7 linked regions of the Homo sapiens genome follow. The protein of the gene in region 3 purifies or fractionates together with the protein of the main gene of each other region. This does not show direct contact. Each region holds a gene or a part of one and is shown on either strand. Other genes may lie near its edges. The genes, in order: MATN2, FBLN1, NELL1, PFKP, ZNF260, TIMP3 and HCN1.

The links.
Region 1: the proteins of NELL1 (region 3) and MATN2 purify together in Homo sapiens (affinity purification with mass spectrometry; 2 studies listed by BioGRID and IntAct, with this or other methods). This does not show direct contact.
Region 2: the proteins of NELL1 (region 3) and FBLN1 purify together in Homo sapiens (affinity purification with mass spectrometry; 2 studies listed by BioGRID and IntAct, with this or other methods). This does not show direct contact.
Region 4: the proteins of NELL1 (region 3) and PFKP purify together in Homo sapiens (affinity purification with mass spectrometry; 2 studies listed by BioGRID and IntAct, with this or other methods). This does not show direct contact.
Region 5: the proteins of NELL1 (region 3) and ZNF260 purify together in Homo sapiens (affinity purification with mass spectrometry; 2 studies listed by BioGRID and IntAct, with this or other methods). This does not show direct contact.
Region 6: the proteins of NELL1 (region 3) and TIMP3 purify together in Homo sapiens (affinity purification with mass spectrometry; 2 studies listed by BioGRID and IntAct, with this or other methods). This does not show direct contact.
Region 7: the proteins of NELL1 (region 3) and HCN1 purify together in Homo sapiens (co-immunoprecipitation; one large-scale study listed by IntAct). This does not show direct contact.

What each region holds. Positions count from the first base shown.
Region 1 is NC_000008.11:97,928,064-97,931,563, forward strand, and holds part of MATN2 (matrilin-2 isoform a precursor), read left to right. Parts: intron 1-2,889; coding exon 2,890-3,459; intron 3,460-3,500.
Region 2 is NC_000022.11:45,544,383-45,547,882, forward strand, and holds part of FBLN1 (fibulin-1 isoform D precursor), read left to right. Parts: intron 1-2,702; coding exon 2,703-2,822; intron 2,823-3,500. UniProt on the Homo sapiens protein: Incorporated into fibronectin-containing matrix fibers. May play a role in cell adhesion and migration along protein fibers within the extracellular matrix (ECM).
Region 3 is NC_000011.10:21,572,086-21,575,585, reverse strand, and holds part of NELL1 (protein kinase C-binding protein NELL1 isoform 1 precursor), read right to left. Parts: intron 2,402-3,500; coding exon 2,177-2,401; intron 615-2,176; coding exon 564-614; 3' UTR 1-563. UniProt on the Homo sapiens protein: Plays a role in the control of cell growth and differentiation. Promotes osteoblast cell differentiation and terminal mineralization.
Region 4 is NC_000010.11:3,098,548-3,102,047, forward strand, and holds part of PFKP (ATP-dependent 6-phosphofructokinase, platelet type), read left to right. Parts: intron 1-727; coding exon 728-805; intron 806-2,373; coding exon of another isoform or gene 2,374-2,453; intron 2,454-2,817; coding exon 2,818-3,007; intron 3,008-3,500. UniProt on the Homo sapiens protein: Catalyzes the phosphorylation of D-fructose 6-phosphate to fructose 1,6-bisphosphate by ATP, the first committing step of glycolysis.
Region 5 is NC_000019.10:36,521,772-36,525,271, reverse strand, and holds part of ZNF260 (zinc finger protein 260), read left to right. Parts: 5' UTR 1-117; intron 118-3,500. UniProt on the Homo sapiens protein: Transcription factor that acts as a cardiac regulator and an effector of alpha1-adrenergic signaling. Binds to PE response elements (PERE) present in the promoter of genes such as ANF/NPPA and acts as a direct transcriptional activator of NPPA.
Region 6 is NC_000022.11:32,850,205-32,853,704, forward strand, and holds part of TIMP3 (metalloproteinase inhibitor 3 precursor), read left to right. Parts: intron 1-3,500.
Region 7 is NC_000005.10:45,644,381-45,647,880, forward strand, and holds part of HCN1 (potassium/sodium hyperpolarization-activated cyclic nucleotide-gated channel 1), read right to left. Parts: intron 1,229-3,500; coding exon 805-1,228; intron 1-804. UniProt on the Homo sapiens protein: Hyperpolarization-activated ion channel that are permeable to sodium and potassium ions. Displays lower selectivity for K(+) over Na(+) ions.

The sequences.
Region 1 (3,500 bases), on a different chromosome or scaffold from region 3:
CAGGTGTGGCTCTTGGAGAGGGCCTGCCTGGGTCTTGGGAATGCTCCCCCTTGTCCTCCTTCCTGGGATCTGCAGATCCATCATCTACTGCCCCAACCCAGGGCTATATGCTAAACCACAGGAGCCTTCATGAAAATTAGAAAAGCACTCCTGCCTTTTTTTTTTTTTTTTTTTTTTTTCTGAGGTGGAGTCTTGCACTGTCACCTGGGCTGGAGTGCAGTGGCGCCATCTCAGCTCACTGCAACCTCCGCCTCCTGGGTTCAAGTGATTCTCCCGCCTCAGCCTCCCAAGTAGCTGGGACTACAGGTGCGTGCCACCATGCCTGACTAATTTTTTGTATTTTTAGTAGATTTGGCGCTTCACCATGTTAGCCAAGATGGTCTCAATCTCCTGACCTTGTGATCCTCCCGCCTCGGCCTCCCAAAGTGCTGGGATTACAGGCGTGAGCCACTGCACCTGGCTGAAAAGCACCCCCCTTAAGGTGCCTCTTAGGGTGGCTCAGCCCCTGGGGCTCAGGGCTTGGCTGGATTTCAGTTCCTCTCACCTCCTTGAGCAGGTGCCTGTGTGCAGCACCAACCACATAGCCATAGCTGTAACCCTGCCCCTACCCAGCCTGGGGCTGGACACGAGTGAGGGCTGATGGAGGGGTGGGGAGAGCCTGTACATGCAGCCAGCACACGTCGGGAGTTCCCAAGTGCTGGATCCTTCATTACATCATTTCCTTAAATTCTTACAGCTGCCCAACGAGGTGGATATTGGTTGCACCTCTGTATATTTTTTTCTTTTTCTAAATTATGAAAGATTTCAAACTCTCAGTGCTCCCATGTTCTCATCTATGCAATGGGTATGATGCTTCTTGATCCTTTCTCAAAAACTTGTTCTGAAAATCAAATCACACCAAGTGACAAAGTGCTCTGGAAATGTTAGGTTTCATATAGATCTTATCGCTGAACCCTCAAAGGCTCACTTTCTGGGGCCTCTGTTTTGAGACACTCACCCTGGACTCACCCAGCCCTCAGGGTTATGCATGGGTATGTCAGAACGTTGGTTTCTTGCCAGGCTACTGGTATTTGTGGGTGCCTCCTCCCCTAAAATCATTAGACTTGTGAGGCGGCAAGGATGAGTTGTGTGTGCAGGCACTCAGGGACGAGTCACAGCCTGGCAAGCTGGCCTGGACAGGATGACTTCATGGGCCTTTCCCACTTCTCATTTTTATGACTAGCTTTACTGTTTCATTTTGGCTTTCTCTCTCTTTCTTGCAGCTGTGGTGATTAGGATTTAGGGCAAGCATTTGGGATCCCTTTTCTAATACCTTTCAAATCCTGATTCAGCTGCAAAGTCCGGGAAGGGAGTAGAGAATGGGGGAGGAGGGACTCACCCTGGTGAAAGGCAGTAGCTCAGAATATCCGAGAAACTCCCAACAGGAATGCCCAGCCTCCACCCACTAAAGCTGGAGGCCTCTCATCTCATCCAATATCACCCTCGTACTAGAAACGCAAAAGGGATGAGTTTGTCTATGGACTCAAACCTTTACAGTCTTCTTGCTTAGCAGCTTAAGGCATAATTATGGTAGTCATGGTGGTAAGGGACTTAACATTTGCCTTTTTCCAATTTAACTGTGTCCTTTGTTGAAATATTTCTTAGTCAGGTCCCCTTTTCTCTATTTCCACTACTGTCCTAGGATTAGATCTGAGTCCCCCTCTCAATGAGATTAGTCCAGAAATTGTGTATACCATCCATCTTGCAAACCACTGCCAGACTCTGTTGACTTTTCATTATGTAACTTCCCTATGGGAGAGGTGAGTTACATAATATGATGCTAAGATGCCCCTCACTGGTGGCATCATGTACATATTTCTCAGTCTGAAAGGAAAGGTCTTTTTAAACTGGCTTCAGGCCATCTGTCCAACTAATTCCTGCCTGCAACTCCTAGTATACCCTCTACTACAAGGTCTCATCACTTATTCTGTTACCCACCACATTCATTCCGTCTTGGGCTTTGGTTCATGTGATCCACTCGATGTGCTCCTTCTCTCTAATCCAAACACCACGCATCTATAAGGTCAGCTCACGTCCCATCTCCTTGACCCCAGCCCATTCATATCCCTATTCTCTTAGCAGCTATTGTCAGGACGACACAGTTTTCATGCCAGTTATTCTTTCATGGTTTTATTAGTTAATTCTCCCCAGGTAGATTAGAAGCTCCTTAACTTTGGACCCTGTCCTAAGCTTCTGTTATATTCTCTGCAGTGCCCAGCCAAGCTTATGTGTCATGCAGTAAAGAATAAAATAATTTTGACCCTGATCAGGTGTTTGGTTACATAAAAACTGCATTGGCAACTTTCTAGAAACTAATATATTCATTTATCTTGCAAAAAGGATTGCTATCTGATTATAGCCAGTAGTCATGATCTTCCAGCCATGCACAAATATACCCTTATAACTTTCATGAGTGGGGAGGAAAATTGATGAAGGAGGTTTCAAAGGTGATCATCAGTCCCAGGATTTCCAACAATAGCCAGTCTGCCCTGGGTCCTTAACTCTCTTTTAATGTTTTTATTCTTATTTTTATTTTTTTAATGCAGTCTCACTCTTGTTGCCCAGGCTGGAGTTCAATGGCACTCTCTTGGCTCACTGCAACCTGTGCTTGCTGGATTCAAGTGATTCTCCTACCTCAGCCTCTCGAGTAGCTGGGAATACAGGTGCCGCCACCACACCCGGCTAATTTTTGTATTTTTAGTAGAGACAGGGTTTTACAGTGTTGACCAGGCTGGTCTTGAATTCCTGACCTCAGGTGATCCACCCGCCTTCCAAAGTGCTGGGATTACAGGTGTGAGCCACCACACCTGGCCTCTCTTCTAATGTATTTGACCTCTCCTCTTTCCCCAGAGAGTTCCTGTGAGAACAAGCGGGCAGACCTGGTTTTCATCATTGACAGCTCTCGCAGTGTCAACACCCATGACTATGCAAAGGTCAAGGAGTTCATCGTGGACATCTTGCAATTCTTGGACATTGGTCCTGATGTCACCCGAGTGGGCCTGCTCCAATATGGCAGCACTGTCAAGAATGAGTTCTCCCTCAAGACCTTCAAGAGGAAGTCCGAGGTGGAGCGTGCTGTCAAGAGGATGCGGCATCTGTCCACGGGCACCATGACTGGGCTGGCCATCCAGTATGCCCTGAACATCGCATTCTCAGAAGCAGAGGGGGCCCGGCCCCTGAGGGAGAATGTGCCACGGGTCATAATGATCGTGACAGATGGGAGACCTCAGGACTCCGTGGCCGAGGTGGCTGCTAAGGCACGGGACACGGGCATCCTAATCTTTGCCATTGGTGTGGGCCAGGTAGACTTCAACACCTTGAAGTCCATTGGGAGTGAGCCCCATGAGGACCATGTCTTCCTTGTGGCCAATTTCAGCCAGATTGAGACGCTGACCTCCGTGTTCCAGAAGAAGTTGTGCAGTAAGTCCTGCTCCTTTGTCACTCTTCTAGAGGAACCACTA
Region 2 (3,500 bases), on a different chromosome or scaffold from region 3:
GGCCTGCCTCTAACTTCGTGTTGGAGTTAGGCTTTCCCCACCCGCAGAGACAGGGAGAAGCACCCTGGCCTTCCGGATGACGACATTCCCCAGGCATGTCCCCAGCCCTTGAGAAAGACACTCCTTGGTTGCACATCTCAAAGGGACAGAGAAACCGTTTACATTTGCAAGTTTTTCTAAAGTAGATGCTTCTAAGGAACATGGAGGTCAGCGCCTGTAGTCAGGTTTGGGCTGGAACCAAGAGAAAATTCTTTTGGCAGCATTGATCTTTCTCAGACAGGCATGTCAAGGGGGCTGGGTCTACATCCTGGATACCTGGTCTTGGGCCAATGGCAGCCACGCTGAAGTTGGGTCAGGTCTCTTGGTATGTGGGGGTTGGACAGAGTTGTTCCTGCCAACAGTCTTGTGGTTCTCAGATAACACCAACCTCCTGGGCTGATGGGAAGGTCACATGAACTGCATGTCAGCCCAGGGCCTGGCACATACTAGGTGCTTGGCAGATGTCGTGTCTTGTATACGGATTAGGTTCTGAGCTGAGCAGACACTGAGAGCTTTGGATGGCCCTCCACAATCGTCCACATTGCCGATGACACCCTGTTTGGTGCCGTGCACTGGCTCACAGGACGGCTTCTGCAGCCTGACTCAAACATGGCAGGTCCTAACATTTTGCCATGAGAATTTTCCTTCCTGATGAGATGGTCGCAGGGGTTGGATATGCCACAGTGAGCTGTGGTGTGCATGATTCTCAAATCGGAGGACGGACGGTGTGAGGGGTCCTGGGCTTAGTTCACAAGAACGTGTATGGACAAGGAACAAGATTCACGAGTTGAGTCTCTCAGGCTTGTGTTCAAACCTGACTTCTGCCATTTCCATGGCCTTGAAGAAGTAACTCAGTCTTTCCTGGGCCATGGTGTCCTCATCTGTAAAACGGGCATAGTAGGACCAACCCCATAGGGGGTTGTGAGGATGAAACGAGATTAAGCATGTGAAGAGCTTATCACAGGGCCAAGCACAGGATGAAGAGCTGGCGGTGTGGAGGCTGCTGGCTTTATTATTATTTAGTAGAAGTAGTGGGATTCCTGGCTTGTGCTTCCTCTAGTCATTCATAAATTGCTGAAAAGTCGGCATTCATATCCACATTAGTGGACAATATTGTGGATATAGAACCAGAGCCTGGCCAACCTTGCTATGTGACCTTACTAACCATTTGTTAGGGTCCTGCCCCGGGTGTGTAGCAAGAACTCGGTCCTGCACTGGGGAGTGTCTCTAGCGGGGGATGAGAGACCACACTGGACAGGTGGAGGCCAGGCCTGGTGTGTGGGGGCCACAGAGATGAAACACGGGGTGGAAGGCTATTGGACGTTCTGTGACAGCCACATAGTATAGATTTAAGGCTTTTCCAGCCACAATCTCTGTTGCAACCGCTGAACTCTGCTGTGGTAGCAGAGAAGTGGCCAGAGGACCATGGTAAAAGAATGAGTGTGGCAGGGCACAGTGGCTCACACCTGTAATCCCAGCACTTTGGGAGGCTGAGGCAGGTGGATTACTTGAGGTCAGGAGTTCGAGACCAGTATGGCCAACATCGTGAAACCCTGTGTCTACTAAAAATACAAAAATTAGCCGGGCATGGTGGTGCACACCTGTAATCCCCCAGCTACTCAGGAGGCTGAGGCAGGAGAACTGCTTGAATTCATGTCCACATTTAGTGGACAATAGCCTCCCGGAGGTGGAGATTGCAGTGAGCTGAGATTGAGCTACTTGTACTCCAGCCTGGGCGACAGACAAAGACTTTGTCTCAAAAAAAAAAAGAGTGAATGTGGCTGTATTCTTTATTTTATTGTTATTATTATTTTGAGACGGAGTCTCGCTCTGTCGCCCAGGCTGGAGTGCAGTGGTGTGATCTTGGCTCACTGCAACCTCTGCCTCCTTGTTCAAGCAATTCTCCTGCTTCAGCCTCCCGAGAAGTTGTGACTACAGGTGCGTGCCACCATGCCTGGCTAATTCTTGTATTTTTAGTAGAGATGGGTTTCATCATGCTGGCCAGGCTGGTCTCGAACCCCTGACCTCGTGATCCGCCCACCTCGGCCTCCCGAAGTGCTGGAATTACAGGCATGAGCCACCATGCCTTGCCGGGCTGTGTTCTAATAAAACTTTATTTATAAAAACAAGTGTTGGGACAAATTTGGCCCATAGACTATGATTTGCTGACCTCTGCTTTAGGTAAAGGGGACAGTTGAGCAGTAGTTCAGAGTTGCTGAGTGGCCCAGTGAGTTCTGTGCATTGGAGTATGAGGAGTACTGGCGTATGGGCTGGGTGGCCGAGGACTTCCTTGTGTGCCGTCATCTGTTTAGGATGCCATCTTGGAGGTGAAGTGGAGAGCACAGGATCAGATTTCCATTTGAGAACTAGAATGGACTCTGGCAGCCAGGTCGGGGCAGACTTCCAGGGGCCAAGGCTGGAGGCGATCGCTGCCATCCTGGCAGGAGAAGTTGTGGTCGAAGCAGGCAGGAGCAGGGATGGAGGGTCCGGAGCCACCAGCGATGACGCCTCTCCCTCGGCCACACCCCCCGGGACCTCTGTCTCTCCGAGTGTGTTAACCTGAGGGAGGTGGAGAGGAGATTTTCTGTTCACTGACCCTGAGGGCTACTGTGGAGGCAGGGACGTATGATGCTCTGAGCGGTGACCCTCGTTTTGTATTTCAGACATCAATGAGTGCAGCAGCAGCCCCTGTAGCCAGGAGTGTGCCAACGTCTACGGCTCCTACCAGTGTTACTGCCGGCGAGGCTACCAGCTCAGCGATGTGGATGGAGTCACCTGTGAAGGTGCGGACGCCCCTGCCTGCTGAGGGGGAAAGCACCCCCTGGTCTTGCCATGACACAGCAGCACGGCCTCTGACTTTCAAAATCCACAGGGAAGAGCCTGCTGGGATTTCTTCACCTGACAAACCTTCCATGTCCACCCTTGGAGGCAAGCGGGTGGTTTGCTGTTTTCCCTCCAACTGAGGTTTTTTTTTTTTTTTTTTTTTTTTTTTGAGACACGGTCTTGCTCTGTTGCCCAGGCTGGAGTGATATGGTGCAATCACTGCTCACTGCAGCCTCAGCTTCCCAGGCTCAAGTGATCCTCCCACCTCAGCCTCCCAAGTAGTTGGGACCATAGGTGTATACCACCATGCCTGGCTAATTTTTTATTTTTAAAAAATTAGAGACGGGGCCTTGCTGTGTTGCCCAGGCTGGTCTCGAACTCCGTGGCTCAAGTGATCCTCTTGCTTCAGCCTCCCAAATTGCTGGGATTACAGGCATGAGCCACCGTGCCTGGCCCCCAACTGAAATTCTAATATACTTTTCCCATCCTTAAGCGTGAGGGTGGGAAGGCAGCAAACCACTCCTGACTTGTTCTTTAATAAATGTGCACGGCGGTAATTACAACATGCACTGGGACCTTGGGCCGCATATCTCAGGTCTTGGTGGTGGTGCATGGCTGAGAGGTAAGGAGGGGGCTCA
Region 3 (3,500 bases):
ATGAGTAGGCATTTAAGAAGGTTCAGCACTATGAAATGTATGTATAATGCGACTGGACTCTACATACATATTTTCATCAAAACATTTTACAGGGATCTCAGCACTAAGTATGCAGTAGATGGGACAAAAGTCACAACAGGCAACTTTATTTTAGAATTTGATCCATAAATCAACAAAATAAATAAAAGGAGCTGAGTCTCTCTCTATTATGTTAGTACACAAAATAAACCAAAAAATACATCAACATTTACCATGAGATCATTTAAATGTATTTGCAAATGATCTGATAAGGGAAACATGATTTACAACACGGGAAACTTCTTTTAACAACCATTGACTTAAATGCACGGCACTGTAGGTCACCTAGACTAGGTTAGCAAGAATGAGCAAAGTGGTAGGTCCAAAAGGCAACCTCCAAACACCGTCCTCAGGTGGAAACTTTGGCAATTATCTGTGGTTAAAAAAACAAAACAAACAAAAAAACCAAACTACCGATTCCTATCCTTAATCACGTTGGATGGTCATTTCGTCCATTCTTCTGCGTTGAGTCCACTGTAAATACTTCAATTATTTTGAAGACACTCAAAATCCACAGAACAACAGACTCTTCCATTCTGTACATCAAAGAAACATGTGTTAGCCAGTTGAGACATGGAATATAAATTAGCAGTCTGCAATTTTTATACTCAAAACAACTTTCAGCATTTTGAGACAAACTTCAAGAAGGCTATAAAAAATGACTAGAAAAAAATGCTAGGAAAAAAACTAGAGAAAGAGTAGAAAGAAAGGAAGGACTGACAGACCCTCCAGGGTACTGCTCACTGGGATTCTGCTAGCAGTTCAATTTCACACATCACCTGCACTCAATCCCTGCTTGGGAGGCCTCCCTGGGATTTCCAACTTTTCACATGACCTGTTTGCTGTACTTATTCCAAGCGAGATTCTTTCCAAAAATAAATCCCTAAAAGATAGCAATTTGTCATTTAAGAAGCTATTTGAAAGTACCCCCAACAATCTTCAGGCAAGTCCAAGATGGGGTCCAGTAAGGTTTGCATAAAATCTCTCATGGTGACTATGAAGGGGATAGTGCATAGTTAGGTATATAAATACTTATAAATTCATTAAAAATTTTATGTACTAATGTAAATATACCTTTATAATTCCACATAATTATCAAATAAGTAACAGAGGTCTCCCTGTGTCCTGGTCATTTAGTTCTCTGGGACTGAAGGTACAGATGGGACCATGGACCTTTTTCTATATGAGGTCTGATAGTATCCTTTTTCTACTGGGGCTACATCTTAAGATGATACTTTCCCAGAAAAAAAAAATCTACATTTATAACAGCATAAAGAGGCAAGTTGGGAAGCTTCCACTGATGCTTGAAGCTGAGCCAGGGTTTGATGGGACCAAGTAGGCTCCTAGTTTTAACATGTTTAATCATGGGAATCTTAAACAGATATTTTGGCAGATATTTGACACTAACTAATGATTGTTCCAAATCAGCTACCACTCCAGCTCTTCATGAGCTTTGAAGGGAGAGAATGGTCAGTTTTTTAGTCTTAATGACACATGAGGATGTCTCATGAAAACCCCTCCAAAAAGACAGGGAAATAATCACTGTTAATGAAATGCTGTAGCAAGAGCTGCAGGTCCCCACCTTAGGCACTCTGATAATTAAACAAAGCAAAACAACTTGAGAGGACTTTTTTCCCCTAACATTGACAGTTTAATAAAAGAACTTAGAAACTTTTCCAGGATGAAAGGAAGTTGACTGGTTTCCTTCCTTCCTCCCTCTTTCCCTCCCTCCCTTCCTTCCTTCTTTTCTTTCTACTTCCCTTCCTTGTTCTTTCCCTTTCTTTCTTTTCTTTTTATTTAATATGCATGTCAAAAGAGCCTAAGTTAGTCATAATTAAGCCAAGAATCACTTGTCAAAATTATGTAGTTCAAAGGCAGGAGCAATTCTTTTATTTCATGCTCATTTGGAATTTGCCTTTTTACAGGGTGCAGCTATGATAATATTCATACATATTAAATTCCTATGAGAAGTAAATGTATGCCAGAGTTTCCACCATGTCCATTGAACCTGTGTATTCAGAAACATCAGGAGTGGACCTCCTGCAAGTGTTCTCTGGCAATTGTTCAAGGCTTCAATATCCGCAGAACATCCAATTACCTTGCATTTACAGGTTGTGCAGGGAGATCCAGCCATCGTCCACACTGAGCCACTAAGCCGTGAAACACCATAGCTGTCCAGGCAAGTTTTTCTGATGTCATAGGTGATGTTATCAGCTAGGCAGGGGTCACTGACACAGCGGGGACAACATTCCCCTTCTAAGATAGCTGTATACTCACAGCTCAAGTTGGGGCAAGTGAGTGGCCAGCAATCTACCTCTCCTTCCTGTAGAGGAAAAGCAAAAAATGTCTCATTATTGTTCCTATGCATAATTTTATTCCCAAAGTCATAGAAGGGGAAAGAGAGCACAGTAATTCTCATCACTGAATATTTCTAGTTGACACCATTGAGGATAAAGTACACTTCCTCCTTGAAGACCTACTACAGGTCTCACTTCTTTCAGAATGCTTTTGCTGATCATCTATACTGCAGGACATAGAAAGAGCTAGGTGAGCTTCTTTGTGTGCCAAGCACAGCCTATAATTATTTTAACATGATACTTATATCATAATTAGCACAATTCCACATTAAGTTTTGAGCTTTCAGACTTTCTGCTTGTTACTTTCTCTCCATCATGTTTAGCACAGTTTTGGTCAATAAAGGCTAATAAATAAATTATAAGGTACTGTCTAGTATATAAAGAGCAATTAATTTCTCTTAAGTTCAAAAGCAGAACCTGAAGCACTGTAATATTTCAATCAAATTTAAAGTTAAGATTGGGCAATGTCAAGATAACCATTTCAGAATGGTTTTGAATATAACATGTGACCACTGAACTTTCTAGATTGCAGTTCAAATGGAGCTTTTGTGTGTCTCAGCATCTGGCATCTGTGGCTTCATTGAGCTGCCCACAATAAAACTATTTCACTATGCATCCTCTTCCTCTGCTATCATGAATTATAATCTATGGCATAATACCTTACAATATATGGCAACTTATTTAATTGTTCAGTCATCTCCATAAGACTGTGGGCTTTGTGTAGGTATAGGCCATGTTTATCTTGCTCACTGTTACGTCATACAAAGTTTGGCACATGAAAAGTCTTGAATATTTATTAAGTATGACCCACAGTATTCTCAAGTAATTCATAAGTTATGTGTTTAACAGCTTCAATTTTCCTGAGAAATATTCATCTTAGGGGCTAGGATGGAAGAGGATACACTTTTGAAATTCTATCTATGAAAATTTCATGCATCAAATTAATACTAATTCTTCTGGATGCCTGATGATTAGCTTCTTGGAAAAGAAATGCAATTTGCCAGTCTCATAGGGAAACTAATTCTACAGTTGTATTGACTTTTTTTGTCCTTGGGTGGGAGTTTT
Region 4 (3,500 bases), on a different chromosome or scaffold from region 3:
ACCTGTAATCCCAGCTGCTCAGGAGGCTGAGGCAGGAGAATCACTTCAACCCGGGAGGCAGGTTGCAGTGAGCCGAGATCGCGCCACTGCACTCCAGCCTGGGTGACAGAGTGAGACTCCGTCTCAAAAAAAAAAAAAAAAAAGGTAATTGTCCTTGGGCTTCTTCTATCAATGTGTCCTCACATATTGATATCTGATTCCCTAATGCAGCACCGTGTCATTAATGGAGGGTAAGGCAGACAATTATTATTCAGCTGTGCTGTTTAATAATATTCAACATACATCCCAAGTGGCGCAGGGTGCCTTGGCAGGCGGAGCCCCTGACAAAATGCTCCCATGTATGTCCCGTGCTCGACAGTGCTGTGTGCCTGTGAGTTTGTGCTGAAGTATGATAAACACGTTGGGTGAAAGTGACCCCTTTCAACCTCTAGCGAAACACGACCCTTTCAACCTCTCGGGAAACGCTGGGCCATAGGAGAATGGCTTGATTCCTCATTGCACTGTGAGGCTGAGTCTAGGCAGACGTTCCCATTACTAGGGACTCAAGGTGAGGACTTTCCCACAATTCACTGCTTTTATCCAGTGCTGGAACTGCCCTGTCTTCTGACCAGTGGATGCTGAGGAACTGACATTCACTGTCATTTTTCCCGTTTTATATAATTTAAGGATCACTTCCCATTTAGTGAAGTTTATCTCATTTTTAAAAGATTCTCCCTTTCTCCCCTAGGGCTACCAGGGCATGGTGGACGGAGGCTCAAACATCGCAGAGGCCGACTGGGAGAGTGTCTCCAGCATCCTGCAAGTGGTAGGTACTGGGCTGCGTCCACAGGGTTCTCTGAGTTAGAGACTCTTTTATGTCTAGTAAATTCCCAGAACACTTGAGCTCAGATCAGTTGCGAAATAGAGATTATGTGGACAGAACAGACTTTGTGAGCAGCTCTTTACTTGTGGTTTGATTTTTAGAAATGCATGTGTTAATCTGTGAGTCACTTTGAGTACTTGTTAATAGAAATAATCCAAATCGGTGCCTCCCCGCTGAAGACGCTCATGGGGCCCACACCTTCGTGCTGGTCCAGGCTCTCTCTGCATTGGGCGCCTCCTGAGCTCCGACACATCAGAAGAGAGGTGGAGGGAATTTTGACAACCACGGAAGTTAGGTGGAGCAACGTTTGCAAAACATCAGGAGAGTGTGGGCTGAATTCACACAGGGGAGCGTTTCCATTCTGCGGTCGTGATTGACGGAGGAAGATAAGATGTGAACGGAGAGTTGAAGTGCGTATGTGTATCAGTGAGTCTGTGTTTCTGTGTGTGGTGTATGTGGTGTGTGAATCTCGGTGTGTGTGTAACTGTGTGAGTCTGGTGTGTGTCTGTATGTAGGTGTGTGAGTCTGAGTGTGTATGTGTGGTGTGCCCGTGTGTATGTGTTAACTGTGTGAATTTCTGGCTAGCGAATGTGTATCTGTGTGTGGGGTGTGTGTATATGTGGTGTCCTTGTATGTGTAGGTGTGTGGTGTGTGTGTGTGTGTGTGTGTGTGTGTGAAAGAGAGTGAGTGAGAGAATGGGAATGGCACCCACTCCTCTGCAGCCCAGTTATCCTGGTTTCGTTCCTGAGTTGCGGCCACCTCGTCTCTTTGGTTGGAGTTTCTGGGTTGCTGGCTCTAGCTCCCATTGTGCTGGCTCTCGTGCTGCCCCCCAGGTTTTTGTCCAGGCAGAGTCCAGAGAGCACCCCTGCCCTGCTCTGCGCCCCCACCCTCACTTGCCTTGGGGGTTGGGTTGTAAATGGTCTCGGTCACACTTGGTGCCAGTGACGTAGGATCGTGTGGAGTGAATTTCAGTTTTTGTAACCTTTTCATAATGTTTTGATAAATTAAATGGTGGTAGGTTTCATGTAAAAATAGGAGCTTTTCTGGGATTTGGAATATTAGTGAGTCTCTGTGTGTGAAAATGAGCTGTGTGCGTGCACCATTGGTGTATCGAAACACGCACTCACGTCACTGCAGGGGTCTCCTGGGAGCTGCCTGCAGACCGAAGGCAGGGAGAGCTTCGCCTCCAGTGCAGAGACAACCCCTGCTGTGCTTATGAGCACCTTGCTTGACAAAGTCAGCACGCGCTTAGGGATCCCGTACGGATGGAGTTTTTTGGTGCATTCATGGTTTTATTTAAAGAAATCTTGCATTTGTGGATCCCACCAACAATTCTTAGTTTTTGGAAAACCAAGTGTGACGAATCATGATCTATGTCCCCTGGAAGTTTGGATGAAAGAATTTAAGATCCTGAAGATATAGCTCTTTAAAAGGGGCAGCGAGTATGTGGTGCAAAAAAAAAAAAAAAAAAAATCCCCCTGGCCCCAGGTTCCTGCTGGTTTTACTTGCAGGTGCTGTAAGGGGTGACTGGAGGGAGAAGCCTGGCTGCTGGTCACACCGCTTCCCTTGTCCTGGCCGGCATGCTCTGGTGGTCAGTGGGCTTGTCTTTGGTTCCACGTGCACCTGGTTGAGCTCGTTGGCCGGTGCTGAGGCGGCTGCTGTGACACCGCAGGCTGGTTCCTGCTCCATGTATTTAACTGCTGGCTGCCGTGTGTCTGGCTCTGCACCCTCCCTGGCTCCTCCTGGGTGTCACGCGCCTGTCTTTGTCCATGGAATGCTGGTCTGGGACTAAAAACAGGAAAATCACAGTCTTTCATAGCTAGTTACTAACTCACAAGATGAAAATGAGAAAAATGTAAATTCTAGCACCCCATGTTTATAGTCGGCCTGTGTGTGCCATCCACCTGGCGCTCTCTCAGACTGAGAGGAGATAAATTAGCTGGTGTCTTTCCCAGGGCGGGACGATCATTGGCAGTGCGCGGTGCCAGGCCTTCCGCACGCGGGAAGGCCGCCTGAAGGCTGCTTGCAACCTGCTGCAGCGCGGCATCACCAACCTGTGTGTGATCGGCGGGGACGGGAGCCTCACCGGGGCCAACCTCTTCCGGAAGGAGTGGAGTGGGCTGCTGGAGGAGCTGGCCAGGAACGGTGAGTGGACACCTGCTCCTCTGTCCTGCGGGTTTTCGCCCTGTTTCAGAGCTTTGGAACCGACAGGTTTCCCTCTTCACTGTGGCAGAAGTACCTCTTCTCACAGATCTTACAGGTCACCATCTCAGGACTTTTTAGGATCTCAAAAAACAACAGCAATGATCGTAAGAATGCTAGTAATTTAACCTTACCATGTGCCAGGCACCCTTCGACCTTTCACACAGATAGCTTTATGGAATCCTCACGACAGCCATCTAAGCCAGGTTTTAGATCATCCCATTTACAGATGAGGAATCAAACGGCCACTCAGCCGTGGGGCGAGCCGGGTCCCCAGCAGCCTGGGACACTAGCATCCGCCTTTCAGCCCTCACACTGTGTCCCTCCAGCTCGCTGGGGTCCTTTAAAACTGAAGTTGGGCCGGGCGCGGTGGCTCACGCCTGTAATCCCAGCACTTTGGGAGGCCGAGGCGGGCGGATCACGAGGTCAGGAGATC
Region 5 (3,500 bases), on a different chromosome or scaffold from region 3:
AAGTCCAGTGTCATTTTTCTGCTCACAAGTTTAAAGTCAGCACTTAAAAGAACAGCAACAGATGATTGAGAAAGAAATGTAAAGAAGGTTCTCTTTGTGTGAGTAAGCAAGAACCTGGTAGGTATGAATGAGATAAAGACTTATTGCAGTTATTCAGTGAGAATTTGCAGCCTCTGAGTTGTTGTGGGGTTTTTTTGTTTGTTTGTTTGTTTGTTTTTTTGAGATTTTCGTACTAGCCTTTGTCTTTTAGAGTGACTGTTGCTGGGAATTCTTTAGATACCTAAATGACATTTCCAGACTGTCTTCCTGAATCTATGCATCCCTTTTATCAGATTCTAGAGGACTGATTGCTCTTCTAAAATCTATTCTGGATGCCAGTCATTCTACATCATTTGCAGCCTCAATTTTATGATTTTTTTACAGCCTCAATTTCACTTTTCTTCCTTTCACTAACATTCTCCATTTTTCACTTTTCCCTGTATGCCTAGATGCGTTTCCTTAAGCATTCAGTCCTTCATAGATCTGTTAGTTTTCAAAAACTAGCATGTCGTTAAGAGTCATCACCACTCCCTAATCTTAAGTACCCAGGGACACAAACACTGCGGAAGGCCGCAGGGTCCTCTGCCTAGGAAAACCAGAGACCTTTGTTCACTTGTTTATCTACTGACCTTCCCTCCACTATTGTCCTATGACCCTGCCAAATCCCCCTCTGCGAGAAACACCCAAGAATGATCAATAAAAAAAAAAAAAAAAACTAGCATGTAAGTTATTTTCTTTAAAATGTAATCATTCTGGCCAGGCGTGGTGGCTCACGCCTGTAATCCCAGCACTTTGGGAGGCCGAGGCTGGCGGATCACGAGGTCAGGAGATCACGACCATCCTGGCTAACACGGTGAAACCCCGTCTTTACTAAAAATACAAAAACAAAATTAGCCAGGTGTGGTGGCGGGCGCCTGTAGTTCCAGCTACTCAGGAGGCTGAGGTGGGAGAATGGCGTGAACCTGGGAGGTGGAACTTGCAGTGAGCTGAGATTGTGCCAGTGCACTCCAGCCTGGGCAACAGAGTGAGACTCTGTCTAAAAAATAATAATAATAAATAAAATAAATTAATCATTCTATGTATAACTATTATGTATCAATAAAAAAACTTTCAAAGACTAGCAAGTAGATTCTTTTCTTTACATTTTAACTTTCTATCATTCTTTCTCCTTCCATTGTTATATTCCTCAGAATTGAATTTTGCTTCCTTACTCTTGTTTTCTATTGTCTTCCTACCTCCAGCCATCATAGTTCAACACTATGTCACCTCCTGCTTTTTAACAATATTACAGGCTTAGGGATTAGTGCTGACTTCCTATTAGTTCATTACCCTGTTAATTTTAAAAAGAAATAATAATGGCTGGGTATGGTGGTGCACGCCTGTAATCCCAGCACTTTGGGAGGCTGCGGCAGGTGGATCATGAGGTCAGGAGTTTGAGACCAGCCTGACCAACATGGTGAAACCCAGTCTCTACTAAAAATACAAAAATTAGCCTGGCGAGGTGGCACACGCCTGTAATCCCAGCTACTCAGGAGCCTGAGGCAGAAGAATCACTTGAACCTGGGAGGCGGAGGTTGCAGTGAGCCGAGATCATGCCACTGCACTCCAGTCTGGGCGACAGAGTGAGACTCCCATCTCAAAAAAAAAAAAAAAAAGAAATAATACTATTATTATCAAAATTTAATATGTATACTTGATAGAAAATTAAAACAATCAGGTATGTCTCTTCATTCCTGGCCCTCAATCCCCTGTTTCCCAGAAGCAGCCACTGTTAACAGTGTCTGCTGTATGCTTCTAAATGTTTTTATGAGGATACAAAAAGGCTTTCAAGTAGAGCAGTGATGTGATTGGACTGTGACAAGATTACTGTGGCTGCTGTGTTGAGAACTGTAAAGAGTTGAAAGCTAAAGTAGCAAGACTGGTAAGGAGGCTGTTAAATAATCCTGGCAAGACATGTGGCTTAGACCTTGGTGGTCACAGTGAGGATTGTCCAAAATAGCCAGTAAGCTACGAGGTTGTAAAGAGTGTGCAATCTGACTGAAAGAGAAGTATTGTTTGAGCAGCAAGGAGAATGAGATTGCTATTTAAAGAGATGAGAAGAATTTGAGAGGAGTTGGTTTGGGAGCTGGAGCAAGAGTTTGAATAGGGGCAGGGTAAGTTAGATCACTATTAGACATCCAAGTGGAAATGTTGAGTAGTCAGCTGGATATTTGAATTGATTGTTGAGGAGAGAGGTCCAGGCTGGTGATTAGTATTTGTTAGGCATCTCAGATTCATGATATGTAAAGCAATAAGAAGTGTACTAATCACAGTAAAGCTAAGTGACTATAATAAACTTCAAAGTGCCAGTTTAAGGAATGTAGGAATTGATTTCTTGGTCACATAACACTCATGTGGTGAATAGTCCAGATTTGCATGCTAACTTTGGTGCTTATGGTCCCTGAAACATATGGATTCCTCCGAGGTTCTCTCTTTATTATCTGGTTGTGGTTGGAGCTGGATCAACAATGCAACCTGGTTTCAGCCAGATAGAAGATGGAGGAATTGCTACTCTAGGACAGGAGTTCAGCAAGCTTTTTCTGTAAAGGGCCAGATGGTTAATATTTAAGTCTTTGTAGGCTACAGGGTCTCCATTGCAGCTACTTATCTCAAGCATTATACTGTGAAAGTAGTCATGGACAAGAAAATAAATAAACATGGCCATGTTCCAGAAAAACTCTTTTAGTTTGCCAACCTTGTGGTGTTTTTTTTTATTTTATTTATTTATTTATTTTTTGAGATGGAGTTTCACTCTTGTTGCCTAGGCCAGAGTGCAATGGTGTGATCTCGGCTCACTACAACCTCCATCTCCCAGGTTCAAGCGATTCTCCTGCCTCCACCTCCTGTGTAGCTGGCATTACAGGAACATGTCACCACGCCCAGCTAATTTTTTGTATTTCTAGTAGAGACAGGGTTTCACTATGTTGGCCAGTCTCGTCTCGAACTCCTGACCTCAGGTGATCCACTCACCTCGGCCTCCCAAAGTGCTGGGATTACAGGCGTGAGCCACCGAGCCTGGCGTCAACCCTTGTTTTAACAGGTCACTATTTACACATAATACAATTAAGAGTTTGCTTGCCATTAGAGCATTTTGACTTATATTTTGAAAGCATTTTTCATTTTATTTTATTTTTTTTATTTGTTTGAGATGAAGTCTCACACTGTCACCTGGGCTGGAGTGCAGTGGCGCGATCTCGGCTCACTGCAAGCTCTGCCTCCCAGGTTCAAGCGATTCTGCTGCCTCATCCTCCCAAGTAGCTGGGATAACAGGCGCCCACCACCAAGCATAGCTAATTTTTTGTATTTTTAGTAGAGACGGGGTTTCACCATGTTGGCCAGACTGGTCTCAAACTCCCGACCTTGTGATCTGCCTGCCTCCACCTCCCAAAGTGCTGGGATTACAGGCGTGAGCCACCGCACCC
Region 6 (3,500 bases), on a different chromosome or scaffold from region 3:
AGAACACCAGATTTGAAATCTAGAGAACCTGCCTCCTAGTCTCACCTCTACTCCTAAATAGCCTGCTTACCTTGGGCTTGTCCCTTTTCCTGGGCCGCAGTTTTGCCACCTGTTAACAGTGTGGGGTTGGGCTTGGTGCTCCTAACATCCTCTCTAGCTCAGGCATTCTAAGCACCCTGGGATGCGGGCCATGTTACTTGTAAGGAGGAGCGGGTGGTATACAATGGAAGGGTGTACTGGTGATTGCCTTAGCACAGAAGACTGGGGCTTCACCTTGAATAACTCAGCAACTGGTTCATCACCCCATCTTTGTAAGCACCTCTCTACATGCAGAGCTCCCAGCTAGGAGCCAGGGAGGCCGTGAGGGAGATACAGTTTCCATCTTTAGGAACTAGAGTCAGGTTGGGAGAGAAGAGGCAGGTATGTGTGTGACTCATCAGAAGTTCAATGTGGGGTGTGCTGAGGTCCACAGGAACTGTCCAGCCCTTTAACTTATTGCTCATATTTGCATCCCTAGCAATTAGGGTAGGACCTGGCATGCAAAAGTGACTTGGTGAATGCTTATCTGTCTAATACGGGCATGAGGGTGAGACCCCACAGGCCTGGAAACTCCCCAGAGGAGACAAGCCGCAATGTCCAGGTAGAAGGGAGTGGAGGAGTGACGCAGCCCACGGTGGTACCCAACCATCCCCAAGGCCAACCTCCAGGCTTTCTTATTCCTGTGTCCTGAGGCTGGATGTACTAATTTTGTGGAACCTGTTGCTTTGGATTCAATTTTGCAAACATCCACAGCCTTCTGGTTATGTAATGTCCAGAGTCAGCCCTGGCCAGTTGCCCTTGGCTGCCTAAGCTTGGTCATGAGACCAGCTTATGTCTTCAGACAGCCCTGGGGAGAGAAAAATGGGCAGGGGTGGGGAACCAGCAAGAGCAACAACAACGCAAAAAGCCCACTTTGCAACCTCTGGCAGACAGCGCGGGAATGCCAAAGCATATTAGACCAAAGCAGAGGTTCAGAAAACACACGAACCTGCCTGGTCTGGAACAATCCTCATTACGAGACACTCGGTGGTCAGCAGAGAGCTGAGAGGGAAATAGCTGGGAGGCAGCAGTTCCTAAGCCTGCCTGGTTTCCTTCCTACCATCAGGGCCTGGAGACCAGGGTGACCAGAGGCCCTTCCTGTGGACATAATGTCCCATTCCCCCTTGCTGGTGTCAGACCAGCCACGGGTGGTTGTTTAGAGACCAAACAACACTTGCTAGCCTATCAGCATCAGACACTCCCACTCCCAGGCTGGTGGGCTTAGAAGACACACTCCCACTCCCAGACTGGTGGGCTTAGGCTTTCGGTTCACCATCCTTCGCCTGAGCTCATGAATCATGGTGCTGGGAATTAGATGTAGGATCCCTCGTCTTACTTCTGACAGAGGCGCAAAGGGGAAATGACTTACTCAGAGTCAAGCATTTAACTAAGGGCAGATCTGATCCCCAAGCTGAGGCATCGGAATTTCTTCCCAATCCTGTGTTCTTTATATGACTCCCAAATCTCCCTGCCATCTTAATCATCAGTCACCATCTCATGCCTTTCATTCACTCTGACCCTCCATAGAGGGTATCATGATCCATAGAACTGGTCAGTGCCCTTCTATCCAGAGACACCACTGGAATCTGCTTGTCTCTAGGTACCAGCCTGCAAGTCAGACAAGATACAGGCTAGAAGTAATAGTCCGTCCATCCATCCTCTCGTGCTTCCTTCCCACCCTCTCTCTGTGCTTAGTACTGTACTATGAACTGGGGATACAAAGATAACACTGCTTATAATTATGATAAGACTTGGCATCAGTTAACATTTACTGAGCAATTGCTTAGTGCCAGGCATTCTGCTAGGTCTTTGCATAGATCAGTACTTATACTAACACTGTAAAATAGATAACACCTTGTCCTCTGTTTGACAGGTGAGGCAACTGAGACCTGGGAGGTCATATAACTGTTAAGATTATATGGCCACAAAGTGGCAAACCTGAGCAAAACTACAGGGTCTTTGCCTATAAGGAGATAATACAGTATGGAGCAGCAGGCTGATTCATCATTCCTACCCACTTTGGGGTATATAAATGCCCACTCCATATGTTTTTAGTTCCCAGGGAACAAAAAGAGGTCAGTTTGGGTTTGTTGGTTTATCATCCAGCAGTGTAGGGCTGGACTTGTAATATCCTGCAAAGGGTGTATCAGAAAAATCTTTGTAGGAGGGAAGAGAGAGAGGCCAGAGAGGCAAGCCTGCATGAGTTTTGGCACTGGTCCCTGGGAGACTTTGTTCTAGCAGATTAGACAGTCTACCCTAGAGAGTCAGAAGGGGTGAGCAAGGGCTTCCTTAGAGCAGGACTAAAGGAACTTGGAGAACCTGAGACTCCGAGCCGCCCTGTCTGACCTCTCTCTTCTCTCACTGATGGAAGGCAGGCAGACCTTCTCCCGTCTGCTAACTCTGGAGCCTCTGACCCATCTCTCAGGAACACTTCAGTACACAGAGACCTGCGATATGTGTGTGTGTGTGAGGGAGCAGGGTGTTAGAATGTTGAGAGAGCTTATTGCAATCCCAAACTTGGAAATTAGCTGGGCTGTGGGGTGAAGGTGAAAGTTTCCAGAACTGGCTGCTCTAAGCTGTGGGGACCTTATCTCCCATCAGGACCATGAGAAACCGATCCACTGTGCCAGGAGTTATTGTTTATGTAGCGGAGACATGCTCTCCAGCTGGCTGCAGGGGACAGAACGTGGGGGACATTATGTCCCAGCTGGTCCTGGGAGGGTCCCATGGGGAGACCCGCTGGTCATGTGCTTTGCATGTCCTGACTGTAGGCAGAGCAGACCTCCAGGGACTTCCTTCCTTTAGTGGTTTGTCTAACCAAATGAGCAATAGCAGGGTCTCGCCTTTGAAGCTCTAGCTGGAAGCATCTTTGACCCCCAGCCCACAGGGAACCATTCTTCTTGCAATGCCCGTGGTTCTTCCTGCCTTAGGACTCTCATCCAGCCCTCTGCAGAGACTGGCTCCATTTCTACATTCTCTGCCTGTCCTGCTAGACAAATTGCTGTATAGAGAAAGATCATGGCCGTGATAGCTCGGTCGGTCTGTAAATAAGAATTTGTGGGTTTAAATGAGTCCGTGATGTACACCAGCATCCAGAACAGTGTTGATCTTTGGTAGGCATGCAAGACATAGTTGGAATCATTGAGGCAACTCATGCTGTCAATGTAGAGTGAAGGCCAGACATTTCATAAGAAATATGCAAATGTCCCCAGACTCAGAAACTTCTTTTTTACTTTATTTGTCCCTTCACTCCAAGGGAAGCTAACATCTTGGAACTTTGTGTAGATGCTACCAAGAAGAAGAAGAGGGGCCCAGAGGCATGCAGAACCCAGCTGAAAAAGAACAACCCACTTATGTCTGAAGTTCTAAACCAGCTTTAACTACTCTTGTTAAGAGCTGAGGAAGGGACTTAGGAGAAAGGG
Region 7 (3,500 bases), on a different chromosome or scaffold from region 3:
TGAAGATAGGGATATGAACTCCTTTGCTTGATGATGGTTTAACTCAGATCTTTGGAAACTCCAGTTGGCTGAGCCCTCTCAGGTCCCACCCACTGCCTAACAACAGATGCTCTATTCAGCAAAATATGGGCCTGATTGGTCAGATTCACTCCATTTATTCACTATACTCTTTGTGTTTTCTATGTACTAATGTCCCTCATGAATATGTTCCTTTTTAGTATTATGAAATGAACTAATAGGGAGAAACTAAAATAAGTTACTATAGGCAAGGCATAACAATAAGCAAAATTAATATGCTAAAATCAAAGCCTTTATATATACAATTTGGAAATAAAGAAACAATCTGTTTTACCCAATCATGAATTCAATGAAACTTCAATATTAGAGGATACAAAAACCACACTATCTCACAGAGCTAATGATGTGCCAGATTAGCAATCAGACCCTACACATCTTTATCAAAATAATGGTACTTGATGTATTTATATTAGATTAAAAAAAACCAAGGTGGGAAAGGGGTTGTATTGATCAAGATAATAATTGCTGATTAAAGTGCATTTATTTAAAAATAAAATAAATTGGCATAAAACGATCACTATTTTTTTCAGTTCATTCAAATCCATTATTTGATCATATATTTTAGGGATACAAATATATCACTTATGCATGGAAAAGAGTCGTCGAATACATTTTTCTACTTGAATTTCATAAAACTCATTACACATTGCACAGTTGTTCATTGTAAAACAGCCATAATTAACAATTTCATGATATAGATTTAAAAAAGAAAAAGATGCATCTTACCTCTTCCCATTGATGTATGTATCTAATTAACCTTGAAAGTCGTAATAAACGCAAGAGACTGAGAATTTTTGTAAACCTCACAATGCGAAGTGCCCTGGCTGTCTTGTAAACTTCAGAATCCATTCCTTTTTCTACAATAAGAAAGATATAATCCACTGGGATGGATGAGATGAAGTCAACCACAAACCAGCTTTTTAAATAATTCATCTTGATCACTTTGGGGTCCAGGATGATTTCAGAACTGTCTTCATTGACAGTCCCAGTCCTAAAATTCATGATCAGGTCCAATAGGAAAACTGTATCTGATGCCACATTGAAAATAATCCATGGTGTTGTTGTTTGCTCTGTAAAGAATGTGATTCCAACTGGTATGATGACTAGATTTCCAACCATCATTATAAGCATTATTAAATCCCAGTAAAACCTACAACAAATAAAAAAATCAGATTTTAAGATATAGAAAATAACCAGCCTATCCCCCCCATGAAAAATTATTACTGATATATAGTGAGATCAATAAGTAAAAGAACAAAGAAATGATTTTATTTTTTAAAAATGTAATTCCTTAAATGGCTATATGTTTAAATCTAAGTAAAATTAATATATTCTTAAACCAAGGCATTATGATTATGGAATTCTAAAAATTATGTGATATGAAGCATTATACAAATAAAATCAAAAACATTCATACCCCCATTTATTTAGTAAAGAGGCAAAAAAAGCAACCTACCTTATACTTAATACAAAATATAGACAGAAACTAGAAAGAAGTATAAGATTAGAAGATCTGTAAGAAAGCCTTTGGGAAGGCTCTTTGAAGATGTTTTGAATTATTTTAGATGTCAATTTACCAATCATAGATTAGAAAAAAAAACCCAGAAATAAATAGGATACTCTAACAATTTTAGTTATGCAAATTTATCTCAAGGAATACAGATTAGTTTTGCCATGGAATCTAGAATACACTGGAGTTTTGCAGTACTCCAAATATTTTATGCTTTATTTTTCTTTTGCTTGAAATAAGAAAACTAATTTTGGTCTGATGCTAAAAAGAACTGAGCAAGTTCTACTCCATATTTGAAACTAGAATCTACCTAAAATTTGTGTTTTTATTACTACTCTATTGAACAACTACTTCAAATATATTGCCACTACTTTTCCATAAAAATTCTTTCTTTCTTTCTTTTTTTTTTTTTTTTTTTTGAGACGGAGTTTCATTCTTGTTGCCCAGGTTGGAGTACAATGGCACAATCTCAGCTCACTGAAACCTCCGCCTCCCAAGTTCAAGTGATTCTCCTCCCGCCTCAGCCTCCCGAGTAGCTGGCATTACAGGCGTGCCACCATGCCCAGCTAAAAAAAAATCTTTAACATTTCTAATTTAATTCTGAACATGCCTATGACTACTAAGTACCTTTTGAAATATTCTTATCTCAACTTACATTAAAATTGAGAGAAAACCAGGAACTTCATTGCTGGTTTATATAGCTTAACTAAATTAACTAAATTCACTTGACATAACTATAGTGTTATTTTTATAAGGGTTCTTTCAGTCTGTTGACACTCCTATTAATCAAATATTTATAGTTGTTACAGTATATACTTGCAAAAATGAAAAAATAAACACAACTGTATAATCATGAAATGTATCCAGAAACATGAGTTACTTTATCCTAGTCATAGGTATGTTATTTGAGGAGTTTTGTATAAACAATATAAACTTCCATGATAAAAATGTCTGTTTACCAAGATATTTTTGTTTTACATGAATACTCCTACTTAGACTATTTGAGCTACATTTTGGTGAGGTATACATGTGTATAAAGCTTTCAAAGTTACTATCATCTGTAATTAAGAATGACTCCTGAAATAAAAGTACTAGTTGAAGAAAAAACTATAATAGGCCCTATCTCCCCTGTCTCCAGCCTCAGGATGTTGTAAAGGATAAGCGTTTGTTATTTTGAAGATTTCACCAGTATTTCTGTCAAAACTTGCCTGCAATTTTTGAAACAACTGTACAAATACCCATGTCAGCCATACAACATGTACTGGCAGTTTAAATGAAATGGTTTTATATCTTCTCACAATGGAAATGCAAAATATACCATTCAACACAATAAGGACAGAGGAGAGATGTAGAGGAGGAGCAATATTGTAACAGCTATTTCACAAAGAAATGGCACCACTAAACTCTAAAATGAAACTGTGTGTACCCTGAGGATTTTTCACTTCTGGGCACTCCTATCAAGTCCCTTCTGTAAGCTTCTCTCTCTGCCCTCCCCTTCAAGGCTGTTGTTCCCCTGGGTGTCACACATAGCCCTTTCATCTTCTATTCTACGCATTGCCCTTGAGAAATATTATACACTTATCCATGCCTTTAATAATTAATTTGTAACTGATGACCCCAAAAGCTTTATCTTCAGTCCATTCCTATCTTCTAAGCCTCCTAATCCTCATAATCAGTAGCCCGTTAAATCTCTCTCCTGGCATATCTCACACTCATCTCAAACAGCATGCCTAAGCTCAAACTCATAATCTCCTCTCCCACATATATTCCTCACATATCCCCTATCTCAGGGAATGGAATAACTCTATGTGTGATTTGCAAGCCAGAAACCATGGAGCCATCCTAAATAACTCCTGGCCCTAAATCTGCTCAAACCCATATCCAATTGATCACCAAGGCTGTTTAGTTCTCA